2 separate regions of the Homo sapiens genome follow, and region 2 is linked to region 1. The links come from fine-mapping of genetic effects on gene expression. Tissue or cell type: whole blood. Region 1 holds a variant in brackets; the other region holds the start of a gene. All regions are shown on one strand. Distances are from middle to middle.

The links. PIP is the estimated chance that this variant, and not a neighbour inherited with it, causes the effect.
Region 2: it holds the start of ZGLP1, and the variant in region 1 is fine-mapped to the expression of ZGLP1 in whole blood (TOPMed, PIP above 0.99).

Annotation. Positions count from the first base shown.
Region 1 is chr19:10,503,666-10,506,421 of GRCh38, forward strand. No RefSeq gene overlaps it. Among named protein-coding and RNA genes, the nearest start is that of KEAP1, 1.7 kb to the left of the region's middle. The variant G/C (reference allele first, on the strand shown) is at 1,536.
Region 2 is chr19:10,308,452-10,310,951 of GRCh38, forward strand. It overlaps ZGLP1 (zinc finger GATA like protein 1), which reads right to left and starts at 1,364. Exons shown (of 5, transcript NM_001409033.1): 1 at 898-1,364; 2 at 1-99. The coding sequence starts at 1,034. FDX2 (ferredoxin 2) reads right to left here. Exons shown (of 5, transcript NM_001397406.1): 4 at 2,402-2,489; 5 at 1,594-2,191. The coding sequence ends at 2,035. FDX2-ZGLP1 (FDX2-ZGLP1 readthrough) reads right to left here. Exons shown (of 9, transcript NR_176052.1): 4 at 2,402-2,489; 5 at 898-2,191; 6 at 1-99.

The DNA.
Region 1 (2,756 bases):
TTTCTTTTTTTTTTTCCTTTAGAGACAAGGTCTCGCTCTGATCTGCACGCCCAGGCTGGAGTGCAGTGGCGCAATCGCGGCTCACTGCAGCCTTGAGCTCCTGGCCTCAAGCGATCCTCCCACCTCAGCCTCCTGAGTAGCTGGGACCACAGACAGGCGCCACCACACCCGGCTAATTTTTAGTTTTTGTTTGTTTGTTTGTTTTTCTGTAGAGATGGGGTCTCGCAATGTTGCCCAGGCTGGTCTTGAACACCTGGGTTTAAGAGATCCTGACTCCATTGGCCTCCCAAAGTTCTGGGATTATAGGTGTGAGGCGCTGTGCCCAGGCCTCAGGTTTTCCTTGTCTTTTTTTTTTTTTTTTTTTTTTAATTGAGACAGAGTCTCTCACTGTCACCTGGGCTGGAGTGCAGTAGCTCGATCTTGGCTCACTGCAACCTCCGCCTCCCGGGTTCAAAAAATTCTGCCTCAGCCTCCCGAGTAGCTGGGATTACAGGCGCCCGCCATCATACCCAGCTAATTTTTTGTATTTTTAGTACAGATGGGGTTTCACCATGTTGGCCAGGATGGTCTCAAACCCCTGACCTCATGATCCGCCCGCCTCGGCCTCCCAAAGTGTTGGGATTACAGGCGTGAGCCACCGCGCCCGGCCTTCCTTGTCTTTATTTTTGATTTACTTCCTATCAAGAGGCGTGTGGCACCCGTCTTTGGGGGGTTCAAACCCTGGATCTGCCTCTTACCAGCTCAGTGCCCGTGGGCGCTTACTTAGTTCTCTATGGTTCAGTTTCCTCTCTATAAAAAGTAATAATATAATAGCACCTACCTACCAGATTATCATTAAGACTAAATGCGGGGCCGGGCGCGGTGACTCACACCTGTAATCCCAGCATTTTGGGAGGCCGAGGCAGGCGGATCACGAGGTCGGGAGATCGAGACCATCCTGGCTAACATGATAAAACCCCGTCTCTACTAAAAATACAAAAAATTAGCCGGGCGTGGTGGCGGGCGCCTGTAGTCCCAGGTACACAGGAGGCTGAGGCAGGAGAATGGCGTGAACCCGGGAGGCGGAGCGTGCAGTGAGCCAAGATCACCGCACTGCACTCCAGCCTGCGCCACAGAGCGAGGCTCTGACTCAAAAAAATAAATAAGTAAATAAAAAATAAAAATATTAAATGCGAATGCTGGCTCCCAAGAGACAGAAACCATTGCTATTTTTCATGACTGGGGATACTGATTTGTCATGCACACCGTTTATCATGTAACGTTAACTTTTAAATAAATGTATGTAAGTTTATTTTAAAGAATTCATCTAGGCTGGGTGCGGTGGCTCACATCTGTAATCCCAGCACTTTGGGAGCCGAGGTGGGTGGATCACGAGATCAGGAGTTCAAGACCAGCCTGGCCAACATGGTGAAACCCCCATCTCTACTAAAAATACAAAAATTAACCGGGCGTGGTGGCGGGCGCCTGTAATCCCCAGCTACTCGGGAGGCTGAGGCAGAGAATTGCTTGAACCCGGGAGGCAGAGGTTGCAGTGA[G/C]CAGAGATCGCGCCACCACACTCCAGCCTGTGCAACAGAGTGAGACTCTGTCTCAAAAAAAAAAAAAAAAAAAGAAAAAAAAAGAATTCATCTAAATTTCATCCAAATTATAATTATTTTTAAAAGATAGAGAGGCCAGGCGCAGTGGCTCATGCTTGTAATCCTAGCACTTTGGTAGGCCAAGACGGGTGGATCACCTGAGGTTAGGAGTTCGAGACCGGCCTGACCAATATGGTGAGACCGCCGTCTCTACTAAATACAAAAAATTAACCGGGTGTGGTGGTGGGTAAGTGAAGGTTGCAGTGAGCCGAAATCCTGCCATTGCACTCCAGCCTGAGCAACAGCGCGAGACTACGTCTCGAAAGGAAAAGAAAAAAAAAAAAGATAGATGGGATTTCGCCATGTAAGTGAATAATAAATGGAAACTCTAGGCCCCTGGAGCCTCCAGGGTGAATTTGAAAGATTGAACGTCCTGGCTCAGGGTCTGGAAGGAATCACGTGTAGGGCTACGTTGGAGTTACCCCGCTACCCCAAATCCTTGTTGCGTGTAGATGCAGTTCCAGACAGCTCCTCAGGGGGGCGGCCTAGATAGTCCGTGAACACGCTGAGTGGCCGAGGTTGTAACCAGCGCCTTCCTGGCACGTTGCAGAAAACAACCTCTCTAATATCTCTCAAAATCAAACCTACAGGTCCAGTGAGCCAGGTGCTTGTAGAGATTTATCCAAGGTGCACTCGCACACATACAGGAGGAAGCATGTGCACACATTCATTGCATTATAATGCATATCATGGCAAAAGGACTGGATCCCATTCACATGTCCCTCTGTAGAGCCCTGGCTTAATCAGTGGTGGCACATCCTTGCTAAGAAATACTATGCAGCCAGTTAAAAGGAGCAGTACATTTACTGTATGGATATGTACCTAGATCTTCTATTTTTTCTTTTCTCTTTTTCTTTTTCGATTTTCATTTATTTATTTATTTATTTATTTATTTATTTTTGAGACGGAGTCTCGCACTGTCACCCGGGTTGGTGTGCAGTGGTGTGATCTTGGCTTGCTGCAACCTCTGCATCCCGGGTTCAAGCGATTCTTCTACCTCAGCCTCCCAAGTAGCTAGGATTACAGGTGCCTGCCACCATACCCAGCTAATTTTTTGTATTTTTAGTACAGACAGCGTTTCATCATGTTGGTCAGGCTGGTCTTGAACTCCTGACCTCGTGA
Region 2 (2,500 bases), 200 kb before region 1:
ACCGGGGTGTCCTGGGCAGGGGACTGACCCAGCCTCTCCACTGTCTCTTGGAGGAAGCACAGGGCGGTGACCGACTCCTGGCATGCAGGCCAGAGGGACCTGGGGAGAAGGGCAGTGGGGTCACGTTTTCTTGGGTGACTCCTGGGTTTAGCCGGCCAGGGGGTTCCAACTTGGGCCGGCTCTTTGTGTACCCTTGGACAGGCTACACACCCCACCTGAGGTTCAGTCATTTCTAACTCTGGGTGGAAGGTTTAAGAGTTGCAGTAATTGCAACTCACCTCGCCCACTGTGGGCCTCCCAGGCACGCCCAGCCCTCCACATCAATCAACCCCTTACGGCACCCGTAGATCACCCAGGCAGGGACCGCCCTAGGTGACCGAGGCAGGATATCAAGCCTCTGGCTGCAGGATCGAGAAAAAGGTTACTTTTTTTCTTTGTGTTTCTTTTAGAGACCGAGCCTCACTCTGTACCCCCGCCTGGAGTGCAGGGGCGTGATCAGGACTCAGTGCAGCCTAGAACTCCTGGGCTCGACCGATCCTTCCGCCTCAGCCTCCCGAGTAGCTGGGACTTACAGGCACGCGCCACCACGCCGCTGGCTTGCCATAATATGATTACGATTTTTATCATTTTCATTATTATTGAGTTGCCCTCCATAACCCCTGGATGATCCCTGGGGAGTGCCTACATCAGCCCCAGAGACATGGAATTGCATGGCCTCTGATCCCTAGATGACCCCAAGTGTCTCTGGGCACCAGAACCTCTTTGTAAGTTTCAGTAACTATTATAAAATTGCCACTTCTCGATAACCCCAGCAAAGAGAGGTCATGACCCCTTGATCACTGAGCCAGGTGGTGAAGTGCTAGCGGGGTCCGGGGAATGGGGTTTGGCCTTACGCACCTCTCACTGATTCTGCAGCATCCTGGGGTCCTCGGCTTCTCCTGGGAGGGGGATCCTCCCAGCCGCTCCAGGTTCAGACAGGGCGGCGCCAGAAGCTTTGCTGGCATTGAGGAGTCCGGGATTGGCTCGGCCTCCATTGCGCCCCAGCCCAGCCCCCTCCCTAATTTCACCCGGCCCTGTCCCGCTGGGCCCACCCGATGAAACCCACCTGGGAGGGGCGGGACCTGTGTGGTGGGAGCGCTCTTGGTAGAGGATGCGATGAGCCCCAGCTGAGAGCGACCAGCCTCGGCGGCACCTTTCCTCTTTCTGGCTTTTTTCAGGTCATCCGCGCACCCCTGCGTGGCAAGGGCGGCCTGGACCCCACCAAATCCCTCCGCAGCTGCCGGGGCGGGGCCTTCCACGCTAGCCCTCCCCCTCGGAAATGGGGGCTCCCAGGCCTCTGCCTTGGATCCCCAGCGGCATCTTAGATCCCAGAGGGAAAAGAGAACCGGGGGCCCAGCACAGCAGATGCAGGTGTGGTTTGTTTTTGTTTTTGTTTTTTTTTTTTTTGAGACAGGGCCTCACTCTGTCACCCAGGCTGGAGTGGAATGGCCTGATCACCGCTCCACTGCAGCCTAAATCCCCTGGGCTCAAGTGATCCTCCCACCTCAGTCTCCCGAGTAGCTGGGACTACAGGCACTTACCACCACTCCACGCTAATTTTTACTGTTTTTATAGAGACGAGGTCTCGCCATGTTGCCCAGGATGGTCTTAAGCTCCTGGCCTCAAGTGATCCTCCCATCTTGGCTTCCCAAAGTGCTAGGATTACAGGTGTGAGCCACCTGTAGACCCCAGATCTGTCCCCCAAGGACACTCAACATGCTGGGGCCTGTGTTATCGATTTATTGCAGCTCCAATATGAGTCCACTCCTACTCAAACCCTGATTCTCAGGGGCCTGGGGAAGGCCACCCCACTAGGGGCCCTGTCCCCACCAGAGCCTGGACATGGGACTCTCTCCCAAGCAGGGGTGTTGTCCTTCACAGGGGCTTCCACGTCTCTCCCGGGCCTGTCCGCACTCTGGGCAGGGCTGGCACCTGGCTATTCCCTCAATCTGGGCCCTGGGGCCATGGCAATGTGGAATGGTCCAGGTGTTCATGTCAGTGGGGCTTGGGGACATGGCCATCCACGTAGAAGTTCCTGGTGATCTTGGGCAGGGTGAATTCCGCTCCTTCCAGCTCCGGTGTCAGCACAATCTGGCAGCCCAGCCGCGAGTTCTCCTGGAGGAGGGGGGCCATGTCTAGCATGTCGTCTTCCCTAGGGTGGTGACACGGGCAGTGTTAGCCGAGGGCAAGCTAGCTGGGTGGGTGGGGGGCCAGAGGTGGGGGAGGGAGGAAGCTGACTGAGCGCAGGGGGTAGTGGTGGGGGAGGCAGCTCCCATTCCAGGAACTGGAAGTGGGGAGGATGGTGGGGGCTGCTGAATGCTCCAGGGTGAAGCTGCCAGCTAGACAGGGCTGACCCACTCACCTCTCCTCGGGAGGAGGCAGGAGATCCAGGTGGTCTTCACTCACATACACATGGCAGGTGGAGCAGGCCAGGGAGGCTTCACAGGCCCCTAGGGGTGGG